Regions from separate parts of the Homo sapiens genome. Here all the other regions are linked to region 2. Evidence: fine-mapped expression QTL. A gene starts in region 2. Each other region holds a variant in brackets. All regions are shown on one strand. Distances are between the middles of the regions.

Region 1 (8,276 bases), 22 kb before region 2:
TATTCCAAAGCTACAGATAGTTTTTAGAGGTAATTATATGTTTAAAGGGAAGTGTCCAATCTTTTTTTTTTTTTTTTTGAGATGAAGTTTCGCTCTGGTCACCCAGGCTGGAATGCAATGGCACGATCTTGGCTCACCACAACCTCCGCCTCCTGGGTTCAAGCGATTCTCTTGCCTCAGCCTCCCGAGTAACTGGGATTACAGGCGCATGCCACCATGCCCAGCTAATTTTTGTATATTTAGTAGAGACAGGGTTTTGCCATGTTAGCCAGGCCGGTCTCGAACTCCTGACCTCAGGTGATCTGCCCGCTTTGGCCTCCCAAAATGCTGGGATTACAGGTGTGAGCCACCATGCCCAGCTGAATCTTTTAAAACTTTGATTTATTAGTATCTTTTGAGTGATTCGGGTATTTTAAATTAAAGTGTGTATTCAATCTGTACCCTAAACATTATGGCCAGTGATGCGTTTGGTGTTGAAATTGTATCTATCAATAAGCTTGACACTTTATTATCGCTAAATGCAGATTTTACTGTGTCCTATAGGTTTGCTATTAAACATTCTTCTTTGCTTTGCTTTAGGAATAGCTTGTAATTTTGCTTTCCATTCCCTTCTTGATCTCATGCTTATATACTGCAGTTTATCTTAATTTCTGAGTAATTATGATTTCATGATCTTTTTTTTTTTTTTTTTTTTTTGAGACAGGGTCTCATTGTCACCCAGGTTGGAATGCACTGTCGCAATCTTGGCTCACTGCAACTTCCGCCTCCCGGGCTCAAACTATCTTTCCACCTCATTCTCCCAAATAGCTGGGACTACAGGCATGCGCCACCACAGCCTGCCAATTTTTGTATTTATTGTATAGATGGGGTTTTGCCATGTTTCCCTCTGGTCTCGAACTCCTGAGCTCAAGTGATCAACCCTCCTCGGCCTCCCAAAGGGCTGGGATTACAGGCATGAGCTACCACACCCAGCCAGTCATGTTTTGTTGTGTATTTTAGTTGTATTGGATAATAATCTGAGGATGTGTTGCTTAAAATATCACCTTTTCGAATTAAGGTAGTTTGGGGGCTGCTTGAGTTCTCTAGGGATGCCATAGCAAAGTTCCATAAACTAGGGGGCTTCGACAGCAGAAATGGACTGTTTCTCGGATCTGGAGGCCAGAAGTCAGAGATCGAGGTGTTGGCAGGGCAAGGTTCCCCCTGGGGGCCGTGAGGGAGAATCTATTCCAGGCTCTCCCCCAGCTTCCGGGACTTTGCTGGCCATCTTTGGTGTTCCTTGATTTGTGGCAGCCTCTCCCCAATCTCTGCCTTCATCTTCACACAGCCCTCTTTCTCCCTGCATACAAGGCGCTGTGTCCACATTTCTTCTTTTTATAATGACACAGTCATATTGGATTACAGCCCACCCTAATGACCTCATTTTAACTTGATTACCTCTGTGAAGATCCCCAAATAAGGCTCCATTCTGAGGTACTGGGGGTTTGGGCTGTAATATATCTTTTTTTAGGGGGAGGAGGGAGGCAGACACAATTCAATGGATAACAGAGGCCGAATACATAAATAACTGTAAAATATGTTATAGACTCTGAAAAATGCACCTGCTTCAGAGATGCAGGCTTTTCTATATATCTCTAAAATCTAGTTGACAATTGTACTATTCAATTTCCTTTACATTTTTACTTGTTTTTTTTTTTGTTGACTATATCTGTCTGATTTAATGACAATATATTAGAACATTCCATTGTAATTGCATTTTCTTGAAGTCTTCCTTCATGTCTAGTCATTTTTCTTTATGCATTTAGTTGCTGTGTGTTTGTGCTTACTGCATTACAACTGTATTAATACACACACATATATATATACACACGCTCTAACACACATATACTCATGACACATATATACTGACAAATACTTGATACATATTATAGCCAGGCACTGTGGTTCATGCCTGTAATCCCAGCACTTTGGGAGGCTGAGGCAGGCAGAACATTTGAGGCTAGGAGTTCGAGACCAGCCTGGTCAACATGGTGAAACCCTGTCTCTACTAAATGCAACAAAAATTAGCCGGGTGTGGTGGTGAGCCTGGCCAACAGAGCAAGGCTCGGTCTCAAAAAAGAAAAAAAAAATCCCAAAAAACCACACCAAAAATACACATTATATCCACACCATGTATATGATATATATCATATCGTGTGTGTGTGTTTGTGTGTGTGTAGAGAGAGAGAGATTTTAAGGAATCAGCTCACGTGACATGGAGGTTGGCAAGTCACTGGACACTCAGGGAAGAGTTGTTTGAGTCCAAAGGCTCGAGTTGGAGGCAGAATTCCTTCCTCTTTGGGTGACCTCAGTCATTTTCTCTTAATCCCTTCAACTGATTGGATGAGGCCCACCCACAGCATGGAGAACAATCTGCTGTACTTAGTCTTCTCATTTAAATACTAATTTTATTTAAAAACACCCTCACAGCCACATCTAGACTGGTGTTTGACCAAAACTGGGTACTGTAGACTGGCCAGGTTGATGCATAAACTTTACCTTCCCAGTCACTATAGCACGGTCTGGTCTTTGTTCTCTGGAATTTTCTTCGTGCGTAACACCCACGAATCTGTACTTGATCCTTACAGCCAGCCCAGCCAGCCCCTCTGTCATCACTTATTTCAATTGAGCGCATACTTTGTGAGGTGGCTGCCCACCGCCCCTTCCTCTCTGAGGCCTCTGTTCTGTTGCAGGGGTTGTTTGGTCTTGCAGCTTTGCAGTGAGCAGATGTTTGCAGAATGTAACCGACTCAAGTCTGGCTGCTTGCTGTTTGGAGGCCAGAATACAAGAAGCGAGGTGTGGTGAAAGGAAAGCCGTTTTTGTTTTTTGTTTTTTTTTGGCAGAATCTTGTTCTGTCACTCAGGCTGGAGTGCAGTAGCACAATCTCGGCTCACTGCAACCTCCGCCTCCTGGGTTCAGGTGATTCTCCTTCCTCAGCCTCCTGAGTAGCTGGGATCATAGGCTCGCACTACCATGCCTGGCTAATTTTTGTATTTTTTGTAGAGACAGGGTTTCGCCATGTTGGATAGGCTGGCCTCAAACTCCTGACCTCAAATGATCCACCCAACTTGGCCTCCCAAAGTGCTGTGATTACAGGCGTGAGCCACCACTCCTGGCCGAAAGCAGCTTTTACTCGAGTGCTAGCAGGTGGGAGAATGGCCGGGCTGGCCAGGCTCAAGCCTCAGAGGAACCATCTCAAGCTTTATGTGGGCGAGAGGAGTAAAAGGGAGCTTGGAATGGGAGACATGCAGGCGGGGCACTGGGCACAAGGTCTGTGTGCCTTGTTCCCTTGGCTATCTTGAGTCATGGTCCACTGGGAGCACGGGCTGGCATCATCTCTACGATGGCTGGGTTGTAGACTGACCGCCTGGAATTTCACAGCTAGATTTCCATGCTTGGTTTGTCTCAAGATTAGCGCCCTGGAACTACTAAGTAAGCACAAAATTAGGTGAGTGAGCAGTGCAAGGGAGTGTCTGGTGGGAAGGGAGGGAAACAAGGAGTTTCAAAGTACATTAAGGCTGAAAGCAAGAAAGGAAAGACGAAGTTTCAAAATGCATTTGTTTTTTGTTTTTTTGAGAC[A/G]GAGTCTCGCTCAGTCGCCCAGGCTGGAGTGCAGTGGTGCGATTTCTGCTCACTGCAAGCTCCGCCTCCCGGGTTCACGCCATTCTCCTGCCTCAGCCTCCCGAGTATCAAAATGCATTTTGAAGCTAACCTGCTTGGTCACAAGGATTCTTGCTTTCCTTCCCTGCTGGGTGAGGATGAGGATCCACAGGCTGCCAGAGTCGCACAGGGAAGCTGGCCCACTCTGATCCATTTCTGCTATTGCTGGTTCTTTCTGTTTGGAAGCTTCTGAGATGCTCCTGCTGTCTTGGGAGCTTGGGAATGTTTGTCAGGCAAAGCCCAGGTCCATGACAATCCGGTTTGGAGTGGAGCTCAGCTAGCCCTCCTGAGGTGGAGACGGGCCTTTGCCTCCTCTGGGAGGCCTTCTTCAGTCAAGGGCTGACCCGTCTGTCCTCTGCCCCTGCTCCTCACTTCTTGTCTTCTGGCCAGCATCCTCCCAATTTCCATCTTCTTGTTTCTAGCTGGATTTGTAGAAGCAGCGACAACCCCTTAAGTGGCGTGAGGTGTGATAGTCGCCACAGTCCCAGCGGAAGCCCCAGGCTCCTGGGTTGTCAGTCACCCAGGTACCTCCAGGGGCCCAGCGCATTCCGGGTAGCTGGAGGCTGATCCTCGCCCCGGGCCCCGGATCCATGGCCTCCGCTCAGCCCCTCCCACCTCTGGACCCTGCTCCCCACCCTGGGCGCTCCACCCCTGCATGTACTGGGAAGACTGGAGGTCCTGCCAGCCCGGGGAGCCCTCTCCACAATGCGGGAAAGAAGACAAAGGTGAGCTCAGCTGCAATGGGCATCACAGGCCGAGAAGGAAACCTCATCCTTTGCGCAGTGCATGTCAGCTACCCTTTGATCTAGTCAGGCAGATGCCATCTCAAGATGCCCTGCTGCATGTCCTCATCCATCGTGAGTGCACCTGGTCAGCAGCTGGCCATTCTGCGCTAGTGAGTTGCCTGTATCCAAAGGAAAATGAAAGCTTTCTCTTGGTGGTCTCAGGAAGGCAGGGAGCTAGGGGCGCTAGCTTTATGTTTGCATTTCAAAGAGATGTGTCCGGGTCCTGCAGACACACCTCCCTGGGCCGTAAGCCTGGCGGGGCTGTATTGAAAAGGTTTACAAAGTCTCCTTCCAACCTGGAAATCCAGCACGTACAGCATTCCCCCTCCTGCCAGGGAACCCGGAAGCCCGGCAAAAGAACCCTTGGCATTTCCCAGGTCCCCTGGGGCGGAGAGGAGGACTTGGCGTTTGTGGTTCCCTCCCTCGAGGTCCAGGGCTGAAAGGCACCCAAGCCGTTGGGAGGGGGCCTCAGCTAGTGGTGACAGCCTGGGTGCCAGGCCTCACCCCCCAGCTGCCCAACCCTGTGGCTGGCAGAAATGACCTCACAGCCTGGCCTCAGTTTCCTCATCTGTAAAATGGAAACAATACAATGATCCTGGGAGGGTGGGTCATGCCTGGGGCCTGGCACATAGCACATGTGCAGTGCATGTCAGCTACGGTGACAGCTCCTGTTATGTCTGAGCCCTTGCACTTCTTGTCATGCCCTCCGAGCCCTATATGGCTGTCCCTGGCCCTGCCACCCTCATCCCTCCCCACTGCCCCTGGGAGGCCCACTGGCCTCCAGCCACACAGGCCTCAAACACACCAAGCCTGTTCCTGCCTGTGCTGGGTTGAAGGCAGCCCCCAAAAGATGTGTTCATGTCCTAATCTCTGCCCCCTTTTAGTGTGACCTTATTTGGAGAAAGGGTCTTTGCAGATGTAATTACATTAAAGATCTTGAGACAGGGTCATCCTGGATTACTGGAGTGTGCCCTAAATCCATTGACAAGTGTCCTTAGGAGAGACGCAGAGTGGAGGCACACAGTGGGAGGACGAGGCCACTTGAAGACTGAGGCCGGGATTGCAGCGATGCAGCCACAACCCAGGGAAGTCCGGGGCCACCAGCGGCTGGAAAAGGCAAGGGAGGGGTCTTCTGGCTCTTCAACAATAAGAGAGTAAATTTCTGGTGTTTTAAGCCACCTGGTTTGTGGTGCTTTTTCCTTCCTTCCTTCCTTCCTTCCTTCCTTCCTTCCTTCCTTCCTTCCTTCCTTCCTTCCTTCCCTCCCTCCCTCCCTCCCTCCCTCTCTCCCTCCCTCTCTCCCTTCCTTCCTCTCTTTTTCTCTCCCTCTCTCCTTTTTTTCTTTTTTTTGATGGAGTCTTGCTGTGTCGCCCAGGCTGGAGTGCAGTGGCGTGATCTTGGCTCACTGAAACCTCCGTCTCCTGGGTTCAAGCGATTCTCCTGCCTCAGCTTCCCAAGTAGCTGGGACTACAGGCATGCGCCACCACACCTGGCTAATTTTTGCATTTTTAGTAGAGATGGGGTTTCACCATGTTGGCCAGGCTGGTCTCGAACTCCTGACCTCAGGCAATTCACCCGCCTCAGCCTCCCAAAGTGCTGGGATTACAGATGTGAGCCACCACACCTGGCCCCCTCAGTCTTACAGAAAGGAAACGAAGGTGCATGGCATCCGGAGTGAGCAATTGTGGGTAAGGGATGGAAGAAAGTGCAGGTGGCAGGGCTCCAGGGCCCACAGCCCCAGCGCTCCTGAGGGTCTCACCAGCTGAGAACCTATATGGTGCAAGGGCGGGGAGGGGGATGACCAAACGCTTTCCCAATTCCAAGGCAGGATTTAACCTTTGGCTTCTTTCCTTTTGTACAATCTTTTCCAGAAAATCAAATGATTTTTATGTTTGGTTATGGCCAACTTATGGAATCATCCCCCCAAATGGGCGAAGTTAGGAAAATGGTAAAGGCGACTGGATTCCCTTTAGTTTGGGGGCAGAGTTCACACAGCTGCTCTCCCTGATTGGCTGGAGTGAGCAGCAATGCTGGAGTCCTGGAACTTGGGCATGAATCTGTCGCCGCTTCCTAGTGTTGAGTCTCCAGACAATTCCTTCCCATCTCTAAGCCTCAGTTTTCACATCTGTAAATGGTAGTCAGGATGCCGGCCAGTGGGAGGGGCTTGAGCAAGGCTGGCCTTCTCTCCCTCACCCCCAGCCTCCCAGAGTTCAGGCATAAAGAGCTGAGGGCCCTCGGGTTGATATCTAGGTGTGGGCAGGGCTGCGCTCCCTCCAGAGGCTCTAGGGGAGGGTCCTTCTGCCTCTTCCAGCTTCTGGTGGCCCCGGGTGTTCCTTGGCTTGTGGCCTCATCACTTCTATCCCTGTCTCTGTCTTCACATGGCCTTCTCCCTGTGTGTCTGTTCCTTTGCATGGCATTCTCCTCTCTTTGTAAGGACAGCAGCCATATTGGATTAAGGGTGCGCCCTACTCCGGTATGACCTTATTTTAAATATTTACATCGGCAACGACCCTACTTCCAAACATGATCACATTCTGAGGTACTGGGGGTTAGGACTTCAACCTACCTTTTTGGGGGATACAATTTGACTCATAACACCACCCAATCTGCATCCTAACCTTTTTCTCTGGGGATAAGACCCCAACTTTGTTCAAGGCATCAGTGGGCTCAGCCCCAGGTGATAGGTCATGAAAATCCATCCCATTCCCAACGTTCTCAGCCTCTCTTGAGGTTAGGGGTGGCCGCATGATCCAGTTCTGGCTCCTGAGATCTAAGTGGAAGTCTGCCAGGCAAGTTTCTGGGAAAACTGTTGCTTCCTTGATAAAAGAGGACAGAGTGTCTGTCTCTGCCCCTTCCTCCTTCTGTCTAATGCATATGTGATGGCTGGAGCTTCAGCAGCCATTTTGTGATCACGCAGCAAAGCGAAGCAAATCAGAAAGATGCTGCGTACTGCCAAAAGCTCTGCTGCTGAACCGATGCCAGAAAGCTACCCCAGAGTCCTTAGGTGAGAAAACAAAGCATCTAATTCTTTAATCCACCATAGTTAGGTTTTCTACTACTTTTGTGGCCACTTTCCTAACTGATATACTGTGTTTGTTTCTTCCTGCATCCCATTCCCATAACCAGAGGAGACCCTGTGATCTGAGTGTTCAGTCACTGCAGTCAAGCTGCTCTCCTTCTCACCTGTGCTTTCCTCTTTCCTCCTTTGTCCTTCTCTACCTCCTCTCACCTTGTTCTCATGTAACCAGCTAGAATACATTATATAGTAGGCGAGGAATATTTTCATTGAAAAAAATGAAAAAAATTTAATTCTTACTTTCTTATTTTGATTTGATTTGATTTGAGCTCTCACAGTTCTGGAGGCTAAAAGTCTAACGTCAGGGTGCCAGCAGATCTGGTTCTTGGTGAGGTTCTGTCAGAAGCCCTTTTCAGAAAATGGTACTTAAAAAATCTTGGAGCCTGGGCAACATAATGAGACCTCATCTCTATAAAAAAAAAATTAAAAAATCAGCCAGGTGGCTGGACGAGGTGGCTCACGCCTGTAATCCCAGAACTTTGGGAGGCTGAGGCAGGTGGATCACATCAGGTTGGGAGTTTGAGACCAGCCTGATCAATATGGTGAAATCCCGTCTCTACTAAAAATACAAAATTAGCCGGGTGTGGTGGCAGGCACCTGTAGTCCCAGCTACACGGGAGGCTGAGGCAGGAGAATTGCTTGAACCCAAGAGGTGGAGGTTGCAATGAGCCAAGATCACGCCACTGCACTCCAGCCTGGGTGACAGAGCGAGACTCATCTAAAA
Region 2 (8,276 bases):
AATCAGTGTCATGGGGGGAGAAAGGAGACTGGGGAGAGAGGCTGTTCTAGATGAAAAGAGATTTACGGGGTCCAACACCCAACTGCAAGAGGGGTCGTCAATGAGATGCTGGCGTAAATGAGAGAGTCGTCAAAGGGATTAGGGATCATTGGGAGAGGGTGATTATGGGGTGGCCCTCGGAAGGAAGTAGGGGATCATAACTGCTCATGTGTTGGATGGATAGTGGCACTGGGTCATGGAAGAAAATGTCCCTTTTAAAGAAATGCATATTGAAGCATTTGGGGGAGGGAATGGCATGCAACTTACTTTAAAACCTTTCACAAAGAGAAAGAGAGAAAAGCTGACACAAAAAAGGCAAGATGGTGATTAAAAAGAAAAAAAAACTATGGAAAACAGACTGGTGGCTTGTCAATGAGTTAGACATAGTTATCATATGACCCGGCAATTCCACTTCTGGGTATATACCCCCAAAGAATTGAAAACAGGTGGTTCACACAAACCCTTGCGCACCTGTGTTCACAGCAGCATTAATCACTAGAGCCGAAAGGTGGAAGAAGCCCAAATGTCCATCGATGGATGGATGGACCAACACCATGAGCCTATATATACAATGGAAAAGTATTTGGCCATAGAAAGAAAGGAAATTCTGACACATGCTACCATGTGGATGAACCCTGAGGACACTGCTCAGTGAAAGAAGCCAGATGCAGACTTGAAAGGTCACATATTGTATGATTCCATTTTGTGATGTAACATCACATTTCCCAAGAGCCGTCTTGACCTAGTTTTGAAATAGTGGCTAAAACCTCTCATCTCTATGCCCTTCGAGGGCAGTTTGCTAAGTCCCCACTCCCACCACTTTTCTTACAATTTCCCTCTCTCTGGGGCCACCAAACACACACTCCAACGGCCCCTGCCTCATTGGGCCCCCACACTCTGGGGCCAGGCACCAGACAAGTAGGGACAGCCCCTATGTCCTGGAGCCTGAAAACTTATGCAACTCAATCAATCCAAAGGAAGCTGGAGAAACCTAGCCACCCGCCTCTGCTGGCCCCTTCCGGCCCCAGCTGCTGTTTCCCGGTCCCCGGGTCTAACCTCTGTGTGGCCCTGCCTGGCAGCCTTCTCTCGTTCAGAGCTATACAGAACAAAAAGCTGTGCCTTTCATCTATCCCAGGGTCCTGTCATCCAAAGAACCTTTAACTCTCATAAAACATGTCTGTCCAGAACAGGTAAATCCATCATGTCAGAAGGCAGATTGGTGGGTGCCCGGGGGTGGGGGGATGGGGAGTGAGTGCTAATGGGTCTAGAGGTTTCCTTATGGGGCGATGAGAATGTTCTGGAGCCAGGTAGAGGTGGTGACTGCACAACATGGTGAATGTACTAAATGGCCTCTGAATTGTTCTCTTTAAAATGGTTAATTTGGCCGGGCGTGGTGGCTCACACCTATAATCCCAGCACTTTGGGAGGCCGAGGTGGGTGGATCACTTGAGCTCAGGAGTTGGAGACCAGCCTGGCCAACATAGTGAGATCCCATCTCTACAAAAAATACATAAAATTAGCTGGGTGTGGTGGCGCGTGTCTGTAGTCCCAGATACTTGGGAGGCTGAGGTGGGGTGATGGCTTGAACTGGGAAGGTTGAGGTTGCAGCGAGCCGTGATTGCACCACTGCACTCCAGCCTGGGCGACAAAGCTAGACTCTGTCTCAAAAAATTAATTTTTATGTTGTGTGAATCTCACCTCAATCAAAAAGGAGGGAAAAGAAATGTTCCTGTAGGTAAAATCATTCTAATGTCCGCAGGCCACACCTCATTTCATTATAACACACTGTCAGTCACTGGGACCCCTGCAAAACTAAAGGTGCGTGGGGAGGTATTACTGATAATTTGCCAGTGCTTTCAGACTAGTATAAAATTATTGTTTTGAAAAGCAGCATAAGCTCATTTTTTTCCTTACCATAACAGTACTGAAAGTTCACTACCCATTTTGGACAAGTTGAAAGGGGGAGGAGTTATCTCTAGTCCCTCCACCCCAAGATTACTGAGGCAGGTCTGAGCCCCAAGGGAGCAGAGCACTGTTGAGTGGTGACCCCCTGAGTGAACACCCCATCGGCGGGAGGCCGCCCAGAGACGGAGACCCGCACTCAAGTGCAGCATCGGAAGACCCAGCGGAGGTGCTGGCCACACCAAGCCGTCACCCAGAGCAGTGCCTGTCCTTGAGAGCTAGTTCCCGAAAATCATCTACAATTTCAACTCCTGGAAAGAAAGACACGACAAACCCTGTGCCCATAGAACTCAAATAACACCCAGGTGGGCACTACTCCGTGCATCTGAGGACAGAAGCACCTGGAAGGCACCTGGCGGAACTAGAGAGCAGCTTCTTCCAGCTGGACCAGCAAGACCCTGTGACCTTTGGGGACCAGCAGAGCAGAGGCCAAGCAGAAGGATAATCCTGGGCTCTGAAGCCAGGCTTCCCCGAGGCACAGCATCGGGCACACAGGTGAGAATCCACCAGACCTTGGCGCCTCAGGTGAGGAGCCAGAAAGGCCCATCAACCTGGGTGACCGGTGCCACTGCCGGCCCCTCCAGGGCTGCTCCACCTCTGTGAGGGGCCTCGGACCCGGGACCCCTGCTTGCGGACCTTAGCCTATGGGTGGAACTGAGTATGCAGGGTGCTCCACGCGGGGAGGGCTGGGAAGGGGATGAGAGCAGGGCCACTGCCAGCAAGGAAGCCTGGCCAACCAAGGGGAGAGCTGGCTCTAGCAGGATGCCTTAAGACGACCACTAGATGGGGAGATATTCCCAGAAAAAGAAAAAAGAACCCACACAAACAAACAACAATCAGAAAAGCATCCAGCAGTCCCACTCGGTGGGAGCAGGAATTTGGGCTTTTTCATCCACAGCAAGGGACAGGCATCACCACTTTGGTTGGGTTTCTTCCGTCCTGGGGGATCTTGCTTCTCTCAGCCCCATCAGCTTTCCTTGGCCCGAGGCCCTAGTCACCTGCTGCCCACCTGGCAGAACGGCTGGAGAAGGAAACTGGAGAAACCCAGAGCCAAGGCCCGGCCTGGGTGCTGCATGGGTCGACCGGGGCCCTCCATGCAGCCTAGCCTGAAAAAGTCCTCTGAGGAGCTTCCTTGCAGCTGGGCAGGCCTTGCCCTCTGGGGGCAGAGGGTAACCTAGCCAAAAGGGGGCCACCCAGGCTGCTCGCTGAGGGATCCTTCTAACAGGCGGGTCGGGTCCTGTCCTTCTCTGCTCACAGTTATCCCTGGGATGCCCGTGTCACTCAGAGTAAACTCACACAACCCTTCCTGACCTTGCCCAACCCTCCTCCCACCTCTGCACCTCCCTCTGCTCCTGCCACACTCTTGCTCCCTTGAGCCAGGCCACCCCTGCCTCAGGGCCTTTGTACAGGGGATTCCTTGTGCCTAGAATGCTCTTCCAAAACCATAACCACATGCCTCGCTCTTTTACCACCTTCAAGTTTTGGTAGAAATGAGACTTATTCTAGAATAAGTTATTCTAACCACCTAAACTGGCAACCAGACCTCCCTTCCCCGGCTCTTACTGCCTTTTAACAGACTCTGTAATTACTAATGGAAAACATTTTCTGCTTATTGTCTGCGCTCAGCCACTAGAACGAGAACAACAGGGCAGGGCTTACTACCGCCGTGTCCCTGGCAGATCTCAAATGCTTGCTCAGGAGGTATCTGTGGGAGTGAATCAGTCACAACTAGCCCTGTAGGGAAGCGCTGGGTGCCGCTTTCTGCCCAGCTCAGCTGGCTCCTTCTCTCACCCTTGCCCACCACTTCCATCGGCCCTTCGCTTCCTCCTTGGCTTGGCTAAGCTGATGCTTTTCCGTGGCATGCCAGTCACCTGGTCAACATCCCGCACCACCGCGAGGCACCAGCCCCCACCTGATACCCTCTGGAGCACAATTTTGGGCATCCTGCCCCGATCTGGAGACCCTCAGGGCCGGTGCCTGGGCAGCGGTGCCACAACCTCACAATGCCAGTCTGCCCAGCACTCTCACACCCAGAGGTGCAAAATCCAAACTCACCAGGCAGATCAGCGACAGGATGCTCTTTAGCCAGCCTCGGGACCGGTGGCTGGAAACCAATCAGGAGAGAAATTGACAGACACGGGCCGCAGCTCCCAGCGCCCAGCCCTGGATGGCTCTTCCCCTGGCGCCCCTGGTACGGGGCGGCCCCGAGGGCTGGTCCGGCCACTCAGTGCTAGCCCGCCTCCCAGGGAGTCCCTGCTTGTCGCCGCCGCCGCAGCTCCCTCGTCCCCCTCGACACCTGCACCCTGCCGAGACGGGCCCCTTACCCGCTTACCCGCACCCCTGCGGCCCAGCTCGGCCCTCTTACCTGGGCTCGGCGGGCAGCCGAGGGAGTCGGCCTCCCTTCCTGCTCCCGGCAGGCCCGAGGCCAAGGCCGCCGCCTCCTCCTAGAAGCCCTCCGAGGCCGCGTCCCCAGGAAACGCGGGCGGGGGGTGGGGGCTCCTGGGCTTGTCTCGACTTCGCCTCTGGGTACCGCTCGCGAAGAGCGTCCTGAAGGGGAGTCTCAGTCTGGTGCGCCGACGAGCGGGCCGGGAGCGGGCGGGGCCGGGGCGGCGGCAGCGTGGGAACGGGGCGCGTTGTGGGGGGGGCATGGAGCATGCGCGGCGCAGAGGGATGGCGGCCCGCCCCGCGCCCGCCCCACAGGGGCGTCTGGCCTGGCTCCCCACGCGCCCCGAGGCACTTCCGCTTTCTGTCTGGGCTGCTCTGAAGGCTGGGGTCGAAGTGGTCAGCGCACCGCGGCTCCTGAAGGGGACGGGAGGGACCCGCGTTGGCAGAACACCTCCCATGGGCTAGACCCCTGGGCGTTATTACGTCCATTCATTCAGTTATTCATCTCGCTGGGGTCCCCGGGACCTCTGCAGGGCAGCTAGCACCAAGTACCCCGGCCATGGTCACTCAGTAAAGGAGTGACCCAGGATGGCAAGGATCAGAGAGCGGGGAAGAGGTGAAAGGTGACTCAGGGAGCATGGTGTGGAGACACGAGGAGGGGAAAAAGGAGGTCAGGGAAGTGCAAGAAGCCAAGACCCTCTGGGTGCATCTGGCTTTCCCTCAGGTTACCGGAGGGGATCGCACCTGGAGTTTGTCATTTTCCAAAGGGTCATGCTCCACGTGGTAGAGCAGGGAGTGAAATCCAAGGTTGGTTGGGATATTGCTCTGATGACAATTGTGAGACCTTTGACAAATAGTGAAGCGTATGAAAAAGACCGTAAAAGAAAAGCAACAGGGAAAAATCAGCCACATCACATATCCCAGCCCCGGCCACTGGGAACTGAGCACGAGGCGGGAGCCTCCTTGGCCTTTGAACCAGAGTTCAGGGGTTTCTTTTCTTCAGAGACCCTGGGCCCTGGCCAGGAGCACTTAGCCCGCAGCAAGGAGCCCTCGGCAAGCCTGCGCTCCCAGAACAAAAGCCGTCCATCTGGGGCATAGGGGAAGGGCGAGGACGCTGCTCAGGGAACCTCCGGTTGCAGGGAGCAGGGCCCCCAGGGGGCCCAGTGCAGGGAGAGCTTCGGAGCCCCTTTCCCGGCGCAGAGGCAGGGAGTCTCCCGGTGGCCCTCAGCTGTGTGTCCTGGTGCCCAAGCTTGTCCCTTCACCGGGGCTCTGGCTGGGCAGGCTGGGATCTGGGCTGTTGAGATGTTGTGGGGTGACTGGTTGGTGCCCCTTGAAAGATACATCCATATCTTAACACCCAGGCACTGTGATCAGGGCCTTATATGCAAATAAAGGGTGTCTGCAGATGTCATTAAATTGAGGATGTGGAGATGAGAGCAACCCAGATGATCCAGGGGGCCCCAAATCCAAGGACAGTTTCCTTAGAAGAGACAGGAGAGAGAGACACAGAGAAGGCCATGTGGAGGCGAAGGTGGGGAGTGCCCAGGGCCCCCAGAAGCTGGAAGAGGTGGGTGGATCCACCCCCAGAGCCACCGGAGGAAGCGCCCGATTCTGGACTCCGGCCTCCAGAACTGGGAGAGTCAATTCCTGTTGGCTGAAGCCAAGCGGTTTGTGGTCATTTGCTGCGGCAGCCCAGGCCACTCCGACACGAGGGAATAGGCTGAGCCCAGAGTCCTCCTGGGCCATGGAGGCAGGGGGCGGGGGGACCTTTGCACCCGCATCATCCAGTAACCTGGTGGGGACTGGGGCGACCTTGGGAAGGCAGCTCCTGTTGTCCTTGGCTCATTTCCAGAGAGTGTGAGCGGCCAACCTGCATGGAGGCTGGGGAGTGTGTGCCTCGGGCAGGGGAAGGGGGCCCCTGGGAGTGCACCCCACTTCCACTGCAAGAGAAAGGGCCATGTGCACTGGGCTGCGGGTCCCACACAAGCTTAGAAATGGGGGAGCAGGGGTCACCGTGTGCACCATTGTTGGCACCGCGTGTGTGGACACATTGGTGGTGGAGGCGGCAGCGCGGTCAGCTGAAGAGCGCGACGCCTAGAGCAAGTGAAGACGACCTTGACAAGCCCACGATCCTGTCGGGAGATCAATCTCCCTTCCAGCATGTTTTCAGTTTTTTACTGTAAAGAACTGCAAACCCATGCCCAACCTAGAGAGGATGACAGGGCACACGGGCCCTCCCGGCGGTCCTCACACGGCCCTCTCTCCTCCTCTCCACTCCCCTTATTGTGGCCCTGAGGCCTGGGGCCTCCTGAGAGAGGTATCTCCATCTCTGCTTTAGGCAGGGGCAGGGCCTCCCGGGCAGCAAACCCGGATTCAGAACCTGGGGAGGAAGAGTTGGGGTCTGGAAGTGGGGAGGTCCCCTTTCCTCCCTGGGTTCCCACCACACCTAGCCCTCTCACAGTCCGGCTGGCCTGGCTGCTCCCCAGCTCTGGTCTCCCGTTCTCCCCTTGCCCTAGGCTGGCCCAGGACGGGCAGGTGAGGTAGCCGGGGGGCAGGGGAGTGGGCGCTTTCCCACAGCTGTGGTGCTGCCCACTGTGCCGTGGGCACCCGCCAGGTCACAGGCAGCCCCCTCCTGGGGGCAGGTTGGCAGCCGGTCTCCCAAGCCACAGCAGGTGCCCAGGGGCCCAGCAGGGAGGTCCAGGGTGACGTCAAGCTGTCTGTGGGAAGTGAGTGAGCAAGTTGGGGAAGGCCAGGCCAAAGGGGGCTGTAAGCCACCTTCACAGCAGGGCAGGGGTCAGGGCGGCACCTCTCCCAGGGGTCAGCTGGGCTGTGGCTGACTGCTCTGCTGGAGTGCCCTTGGAGGGAGGTGGTCTTGGGCTGCATGCAGAGCCTTGGGAATATGCTGCCAGCCTCAGATATCCACTGAGGGTGATGGCGACTGTGAGCTCCTGTGGGGACAGGATGTGTGTCTGGACTGGATGAGCTGTTTTTGCAACTCCTGCCTCCGCCCCCCTGCCAGAAAAGTGCTGTAGATGGGGTGCAGCCAGTGAGTGGGGGAGGGGATGTCCAGGCTGCAGTCCCAGGAGACAGTGGCTCTGGGGAAAGCAGGGGATGGAATGCACGCGGCAATGCCTCAGGTCACGCAGGTTGCTCCTTGACCCTGCAGAAGGGTCGGAGTACTGCGTGGCTCATGGCATGGAGAATGCCTTGTGTCATGTGGGCCAGTTTGTCCAACCCTGCGACCCCTGAGGATTGATGGGACCCTCAGGATGAGGCCGGTAGGGGCAATAGTGTCAGGCCTGGGTGCCAGGAGGGAGCAATGCCCAGGCCTCAGGGCAGGCTGTCTTGGCCTTCAGAAGCCTGAGGCCCTGAAGCTCAGCTGGGCACCTGCCCCAGGAGGTGGCCGTCCACTGCCTGAGTGGCAGCTTCTCTCATGGCTGCAGCTGTGGCTCCGGTTCCTGAATGTCCCAGAGGGGAGCCACCACTGGCCCTCTGCTGATCCTCTTCAGTGTGGCCACTGCCGTTCTCACTGTCCCTCCCAGGACGGCCTCCCTCTCCCTTCACTGACTCTCCCAGTCTGATCACAACTGTTTCTCAACTATCCCTCCCAGTGTGGCCACAGCTATCCTTATGGTGCCCCCTCCAGTGGCTTCACTGTCCTGAGCTGTCACCCAGGCCCCAGCCTCTTTCCAACCTCAAGTCTTGGCTCTGGCTTCAGGCTGCTGCCTGTGTGCTAGAGAATGTCTGTCAGTGTCCGCTGGGATCACGTGCTTCCTTGTTCCTGCTCAAGGAAAGAGAGGCCCCTCCTCTGTGGATAAAATCTGAAAACTTCCCTTTGGTCTGACTGGGCCATTTGGGCCATGGACTGCTCGGATCACTAACAGTTGCCC
Region 3 (8,276 bases), 890 kb before region 2:
CTCTGGCTGTGAAGTGTGAGGCCAGTGGGCCCATCTCAAAGACTTTATGGGTGCAATGGAGACCAGAGCCCCCTTAGGTGACAGGAGGTCAAGGATAAAGTGAGGATAGATTGAGAAAATGGTGAGGCATCAGTATGATGCCCGTTATGGCAGAAGTGCTCCCACATGGGTGCTGTCTTTCTCAAGAACCCTTATGCTGCGGGGCAGACGATTCAGGGAGGTGAAAGGCTAGAATAAAGATCTGCTCTGCCTGGAGTATAGCTGTTTACCCCGTTCCCAGGCAAACCACAATGGACTATGCTTCATGTGTTTTCTCTTTTGTTCCAATTTCATCAGCCAGCTAAATCTGATGAACACACAAATTCTGGCAGCCGAACAGGGCCTGGTGTGCTGCTGCCCGATAGAAAGCCTCTTCATCCCCTAAGGCCAATGGCTCTGATAGCAGCTGTTATATGACAGTCTAGATTTTTCTTTTTTTTTGAGACAGGGTCTTGCTCTATCTCCCAAGGCTCAAGTGATCCTCCCACCTTAGCCTCCTGAGTAGCTGCAGGCACGCACCACCACGCCCAGCTAATTTTCGTATTTTTTGTAGACACTGGGGTCTTGCTATGTTGCCCAGGCTGGTCTCAAGAGATCCTCCTGCTGGAGCCCCCAAAGCACTGGTGTGAGCCACTGTACCCAGCCTTTCCTTATTTTAAACCAGAAATCTAAACACCCATATTGCGTTTATATATCTATTTTTTTTTCAATTTTCATTGTAAAGAGGGCTGGAAGCGGTGGCTTGTTGCCTGTAATCCCAGCACTTTGGGAGGCAGAGGTGGGCGCTTGGGCCCAGGAGTTTGAGGCCAGCCTGGGCAACATAGTGAGACCATGTCTCTACAAAAAATACAAAAATTAGCCGGTCGTAGTGGCACATGCCTGTAATGCCATCTACTCAAGAGGCTGAAATGGGAAGATCGCTTGAGGCCAGGAGGTCAGGGGTGCATTGAGCTGAGACCGAGCCACTGCACTCAAGCCTGGGCAAGAGCGAGACTCTACCTCCCCAAAAAAAGAACAAAAAAAGATGTAAAAAAAGTTCAAGTTTATAGACATGTTTAAAGCCTAGCACAATGATTTCCTTCCTGTATACTGCTTACCTCCAATAACCAACTGAAAGCAATGGAAGGCATTTACTTCATCCCTCTCTCCACACATGCGCGTACACATGTAAATTCTATTTATTTTTTGCCAAACCATTTGATGTTATGGTTCAGACACCAAGACAAGGGTCACAATTATGACCTTTAGGCACTTACTTCAGCTATGCCCAGTTTTTGTCTTCACTTCCCACTGTGCTAATCTGGCATTTCTATTTGGACACAGTACTCTACCCAGCCAGATTTTTCTTTTGAGATGGAGTCTTGCTCTATCGCCCAGGCTGGAGTGCAGTGGCACGATCTCGGCTCACTGTAACCTCTGCCTCCCAGCTTCAAACAATTCTTGTGCCTCAGCCTCCCGAAAAGCTGGGATTAGAGGCATGTGCTACCATGCCTAGCTAATTTTTTTTTTTTTTAAGTGGAGACGGAGTTTTGCTATGTTGACCAGGCTGGTCTCGGACTCCTGGCCTCCAGTGATCCACCCACCTCAGTCTCCCAAAGTGCTGGGAGTACAGGCGTGAGCCACTGCACCCGGCCCCTAGCCAGGTTTTAATTTGCTTCGGGACACAGTGTACTTTGAGATGGCATCAAACCAGCCACACATTCTCAAACTGACCTTGTTTTTAAGGTTCTTTTTCTTTCCTATCACCCATGATACTTCATGAAGTGGCTGGTATTTTGCCCAATCTCATGAGAAGTGCCCATCAGTTTCAGGTCAGATGTGCAGAAACATAGAAGAGGAAGCTAACTGACAGGGGTGGGATGTCCCTCCCGGTTACACTCAAGTTCCCCCAGGCTCAGTGAGTGGGATTCACTGAGGCTGCCTGCCTCTCCTCAGGCAGCACAGAGGGTGGGAGCAGCATAACCCTGCCATGGGGGAAGCGTTCGTGCTAAGTGGGGCGAGGCAGGGTGTGACCAAAGGAAAGGAAGGACAGTCAGCTCTCCCAAGCCACCCTTCCTACCATGCCATCACAGGGCTCCAAGTGGCCCTCACTAGAACACTCGAGCTTTAAGATGCAAAGAAAGAAGAACCAAAATAATAAACGAGGCCCATTTCAGGCCTTGTTCCCACACGGTGGCTGTTCAAACTGGGCTTAACCAGCAGGCGCCACAGCAGCCCTGGGCTCCCCACCGGCATACCTTTGCGAGGACAAATCGGTCGTTGTCCGGATTCTCTGGATCTGACTGCTTGTACCTCATGATGTAGAAGAACAGCACAGACATGATCTCAGAAGAACTGCTACATGATGTAGGGTGGCTGAAAGACAGACATGACACTGGTCATTTCTCACAGCAACTGGCTTCCTAGCACACGACCTCGGCACATGGTCTCCTCATAGAAGCGGTCATTTCTCCCAGCCCGGGAAGAATCCAACCAAGGGTAAGGAATGCAGGGCTCACAGGTTGGAAGGGCGCTTTAAAGCCCGGTAAGCTCACCACCCCTCCCCCTGTGCACAGTGAGGCCAGCTCCTAACCGCAGAGCACCGTGGACTCGGGGCAAGTTTCCTTTGTGCCTCTGACATGAGTATTCTTTCACATGCTTAAATTCATCTGTGGCCTTTCCACATGCCGAGGAACTTTCAGGAGCATTGTGAATCAGAAATGCCATGAAGATCCCATTCTACCTTCTACAATGAATTTCTTTTAGGAAGTGAACGGTGACAGACTGAGAAATTTGTCATGGTAGAGTAACTGAGGCCCTTTCTGAATGCTGCCAAAGTAACTGCTGCTCTTAGAAAGCGGCCTGCATGTGAGTCCAGCCAGGCCCTAATTAATTAAAAAGGGGGAGGGGACAAGACAGCAGGGGACAAAACCAACTCCCTGGAGCTCTGCCCCAACTGCAAGTAAAAAAAGATGTTAGGCCCAGCTCATATTAATAATCTCTCATTTCAAATTTCACTAAGAAAGTCCCCATTAAGAAAATGGGGACTGTCCCTCCCCCATTTTCTTAATGGGGACCCGCGAAGGGATGGGCCCTCACTCTGTCACCCAGGCTGGAGTGCAGTGGCATGATCATAGCTCATTGCAGCCTCGACCTCCTGGGCTCAAGTGATTCTCCCGCCTCGGCCTCCCAAGGTGCTGGGATTACAGGCATGAGCCACGCACCCAGCCTGATAAAAAAAAAGCTTCAAAGGACACAAAAAGAGGGCTTTTGCACGTGCAATTGTCGAAGGTGACTGATGAATGGTTTTGGGGTGCTGATGGCAGAGCCCACCAGGCTGCAGGGCTGGCGTGGACATTCTCCTGCAGGGCTGGCGTGCACATTCTCCAGGACCCCTCGTTCACACTCACTGTCCTGGACATCTTCCCTGCATTGCTGGGATACCTTGTTCTTTATTCACTAAGCTCTTTCCTGGCTCAGTGAGAGAAAACTCAAGAGGCCCCGGCAGCAGAGGAGTAACAGGCTTCAGTGGAGAAGGGACCGAGAAGGAAGTAATTGGAAATCTCTTCTTCCTCTCAGGTTCCATCTCCTCTGCTCTCTCCCCACTGCTGAGGGTCGGTAGAAAGGGGGGTGACACACTCCCACCCCATCCTTGTCACACTGTGATCTCCCCCAACGCATCAGTGTCTGCACCTTTGAGGCTCCAAAAAGACGATGTGCCCTTTCTACTTTGGAAAATCACAATTCTCAGAAGACCAACAGAAATGCATGTAGAAAATGATGGAAGTTACTGGGTATCAGAGAACACGATGACCTGAATGAGCAAGAAGATGGTGGGGGGCGGGGGGTAGGGTGGAAGCCAGCTAGGACTCGGTAGTGACAAATGCATAACTATTTGCTTATTTTCAGTGCCTTTTGCTTCAAGTGAGAGGTTTCTGCTCTCCCATGGTGAAGTGTGAGGCATAAATCCTGCTTCATTATGGGGGACTTCCAGGGGGGTGGCACGCAGCCCAGGAGTCCCCCTGGCATGATGAGGGGGAAGTTGGGAAAGAGAAGCAGAAAAGAAAATGGAAGGGGGCCAAACGCAGGAGGTGTGAGGAGGAAAGCCAAGGAAGA[C/T]GAGGGAAGAGGGAATGATAAAAAGGAGGGAGAGGCCAGGCGTGGGGGCTCACACCTGTAATCCCGGCTCTTCTGGAGGATGATGCAGGAGGATTGCTTGAGCCCAGGAGTTTGAGACCAGCATGGGCAACATGGTGAAACCTCGTCTTTCCAAAAAAAAAAAAAAAAAAAAAAAAAAAAAAAATTAGCTGGGCAGGGTGGCATGCACCTGCAGTTCAAGCTACTTGGGAGGCTGAGGTGGGAGGGTTGCTTAAGCCCAGGAGGTCAAGGCTGTAGTGAGCCATGATCACGCCACTGCACCTCTAGGCTGAGCAACAGAGTGAAACCCTGCCTCAAAATAAATAAATAAATAAATAAATAAATAAATAAATAAATAAATAAATAAAAATTTTAAAAAATGGGGAATGAGAGGTAGGGTCTAATAAGTAGAAGGCAAGGTAGGAGGCTGGCGCAGGAAACGAGTCAGGGTGTTATTTTGTGCGCTAATGCAATGGGTTAACGCATTCGTTTCCTAAGCCTGCCAGGGTGAGTTGCCACAAACGTGATGGCTCAAAACAGAAATCCAGAATCCAGGTGGCAGCAGGGCCACGCTCTCTCCCTAGGTCCTAGGGGAGGATCGCCCTCGCCCCTGCCTCTCCAGCTACTGCTGGCCCTAGGTGTTCTTCGTCTTGCAGCTGGGTCACTCCCGTCCCTGCCTCTCTGCCTTCACAGGACCTTTTCTCCTGCGTTTCTCCACGGTGTCTGTGTGTCTCCAATCTCTCTTTTCTTTCTCTTATAAGGACACTAGTCACTGGATTTAGGGTCCACCCTAAGTCCAGGATGATCTTATCTCAAGATCCTTAACTTAATTTCACCTACAAAACCCTATTTCCAAATAAGATCACATTCACAGGTACGGGAGGCCATGGACTGAATGTGTCCCCCCAGAATTCCTATGCTGAAATCCTAATGCCAGTGTGACAGTATTTGGAGGCAGGGCCTTTGGGAGGTGATTACGCTGTGAGAGTGGAGCCCTCATGAATGGGATCAGCGCCTTTATGAGAAGAGGCTGGAGACCGACCATGTGAGGATACGGGGGGGAAGGTAGTGCTCTTGAGCCCAGTAGCAGGTCCTCGCCAGAACTGACCATGCTAGCACCTTGATCTTGGATTTGTAGCCTCCAGACAGTGAGAGACGAATATCTGCTGTTTAAGCCACCCAGTCTTGGCATTTCTTATAACAGCCCTAAGTGATAACTGATTTGGGTGCCCCTATTCAACCCTTGTTTTGACTTAGATGACATTCTCTACAGGGAAAATTTCTTAGGACTATTGGACAAAATGTAAAGTTCTCTTCTTGCTTTTTGCTTTGTTTTGCAAAAAAAAAAGAAAGAGGAATGGGTCAACCAGAACATCTGGAAAGTCTGGAGTATCACTGAGGAAACACAGGGCGATTGAGAACCCGAAAGTGAATGGAAACCTACGATAGAAGTGAGATATGCTTTTCTGTTGTCACCTCATCGGACTGTGTGTGATGACACAAATGCCAATAGCCGGCAAACAGCGAGGAAACCAACATGATCCTGACAGTTTCAGGAGTGCCCACGCTGAATGATTTTTAAGTTGACTATCTGCCTAAAATAAATAATTGTCTCATTTAAAAAAAAAAAAGAAAAAAGAAAATGGGGACTTAGGCCGGGCACAGTGGCTCATGCCTGTAATCCCAGCATCTTGGGAGGCCGAGGTGGGCGGATCACCTGAGGTCGGGAGTTCGAAACCAGCCTGACCAACATGGAGAAACCCCGTCTCTACTAAAAAAAAAAAAAAAAAGAAAGAAAATGGGGACTAAAACCTCTTGCTTTGCAAATGTCCTGTAAGTGGATGATTTAGATTTAAAAGCCACACAGATCCCTTGAGAAAATGCAGCCATCTGTTACTAATTTTGAAGGTGAAGGGAACAAAATGAACATGTACAAAAAATTCAGACATATATGGTTCTTAACTGCATCCACACTGTCCTCTTACTATCTAGCCCAGGCTCTGGAGCAAGATTTATTTATTTATTTTTTGAGACACAGTCTCACTCTGTTGCCCAGGCTGGAGTACAGTGGCACTCTCTCGGCTCACTGCAACCTCCACCTTCCGGGTTCAAGTGATTTTCCTGCCTCGGCCTCCCAAGTATCTGGGATTACAGAGGTGCACCACCACGCCCGGCTAATTTTTGCATTTTTAGTAGAGACAGGGTTTCACCATGTTGGCCAAGCTGGTCTCAAACTCCTGACCTCAGGTGATCCACCCCACCTCAGCCTCCCAAAGTGCTGGGATTACAGGCATGAGCCACCGCGCCTGGCCAACAAGATTTAAAAAAACATATTGCACTAAGTATTTTCTCTAACCACAATGGGATGAGGTTAGAAATCAATAATAGATGGAAAACTGGAAAATTCACAAATTTGTGAAAATTAAGCAACACACTCTTACACAACCAAAAGCCAATGGCGAAATAAATAAAGGGCATCCAAATTGGAGAAGAGGAAGTCAAACTAGTGCTGTAACACTGATGATACGATCATACAGCTAGAAAACCCTAGGCCAGGCGCGGTTGGCTCACATCTGTAATTCCAGCACTTTGGGAGGCCGAGATGGGCAGATCACCTGAGGTTAGGAGTTCAAGACCAGCCTGGCCATGGTCTGGTGAAACTTTGTCTCTACCAAAAATACAAAAATTTGCCGGGTGCGGTGGCACACACCTGTAGTCCCAGCTACTCGGGTAAGGCAGGAGAATCGCTTGAACCCGGGAGGTGGAGGTTGCAGCGAGCCGAGATCATGCCACTGCACTCCAGCCTGGGTGACAGAAACTCCATCAAAAACAAGCAAACAAACAAACACAAACAAACAAAATCCTAAAGACTCATCCAAAAGACTCTTAGATCTGATGAACAAATTCAGTAGTCTCAGGTTACAAAATAAATGCACACAAATCAGTAGCACTACACCAACAACGACCAAGCTTGAGAATCAAGAACTCAATCCCTTTTACAACAGCTGTAAACAGCAAAAACAACAAATAAAACCCACCCTAGGAATATACTTAACCAAGGAGGTGAAAGACAGCTACAAGAAAAACTACAAAACACTACTGAAAGACATCACAGATGACACAAACAAAGATATCTCATGCTCATGGATAGGAAGAATCAATATTGTGAAAATGGCCATACTGCCCAAAGCAATCTACAGATTCAATGCAATTCCCATCAAAATACACCATCGGGCTGGGCACGGTGGCTCACGCCTGTAATCCCAGCACTTTGGGAGGCCAAGGCAGGCGATCACCAGGTCAAGAGACCGAGATCAGCCTGGCCAACATGGTGAAACCCCGTCTCTACTAAAAATACAAAAATTAGCTGGCAGTGGTGGCGTGTGCCTGTAGTCCCAGCTACTCGGGAGGCTAAGGCACGAGAATCGCTTGAACCCGGACAGCAGAGGTTGCAGTGAGCCAACATTGCGCCACTGCCCTCCAGCCTGGGCGACAGAGCAAGACTCCGTCTCAAGACAAAAAAAAAAAAAAAAAATACTAAAAGTAGTAGATTACCATCTATCTACCATTCAATCCAGAAATTCCACTACTGGCTATCTACCCAAAGGAAAAAAAGTCATTATATGAAAAAGGTACATGCACACACATGTTTATAGGCAGCACAATTCACAATTGCAAAGATAAGGAACCAACCTAAGTGTCCATCAACCAATGAGTGGATAAAGAAGGTGGTGTATATACAACATGGAATACTGCTCAGCCATAAAAAACAATGTATTTTGCAGCAACTTGGGTGGAGCTGGAGGTCATTATTTTAAGCGAAGTAACTCAGGAATAGAAAACCAAATACTGTATGTTTTCACTTGTAAGTGGAGCTAAGTTTTGGAGTGATATAACGGACTTTGGGGAGGAGAATGAAGGGGGAAGGTAGGAAGGAGGTGAGGGATAAAAGACTACATATTGGGGACAATGTACACTGCTTGGGTGATGGGTACACTAAAATCTCAGAATTCACCAATATAGAATTTATTCACATAAGCAAAAACAACTTATACCCCTAACACTATTAAAATTAAAAAAAGAAAATGAGAGGCTGGGTGCGGTGGCTCATGCCTGTAATCCCA

Which allele goes with the higher level. Positions count from the first base shown, and alleles are read on the strand shown. Sizes are in standard deviations (SD) of each study's normalised expression. Not every link is listed here.
For the expression in tibial artery of the gene that starts at base 4,598 in region 2, allele A in region 1 goes with a higher level than allele G (small effect, 0.29 SD a copy in GTEx).

The links. PIP is the estimated chance that this variant, and not a neighbour inherited with it, causes the effect.
Region 1: its variant is fine-mapped to the expression of ZFP92 in tibial artery (GTEx, PIP above 0.99).
Region 3: its variant is fine-mapped to the expression of ZFP92 in cerebellum (GTEx, PIP above 0.99).

Annotation. Positions count from the first base shown.
Region 1 is chrX:153,430,090-153,438,365 of GRCh38, reverse strand. No RefSeq gene overlaps it. Among named protein-coding and RNA genes, the nearest start is that of TREX2, 12 kb to the left of the region's middle. The variant A/G (reference allele first, on the strand shown) is at 3,616.
Region 2 is chrX:153,407,794-153,416,069 of GRCh38, reverse strand. It overlaps ZFP92 (ZFP92 zinc finger protein), which reads right to left and starts at 4,598. Exons shown (of 6, transcript NM_001136273.2): 1 at 4,367-4,598; 2 at 4,057-4,105. It also overlaps a transcript of PNMA6E not described here. RefSeq lists silencers at 4,080-4,290, 4,353-4,492, 4,553-4,802.
Region 3 is chrX:154,299,422-154,307,697 of GRCh38, reverse strand. TKTL1 (transketolase like 1) reads right to left here. Exons shown (of 13, transcript NM_012253.4): 2 at 2,277-2,394. Among named protein-coding and RNA genes, the nearest start is that of TKTL1, 7.8 kb to the right of the region's middle. The variant C/T (reference allele first, on the strand shown) is at 4,135.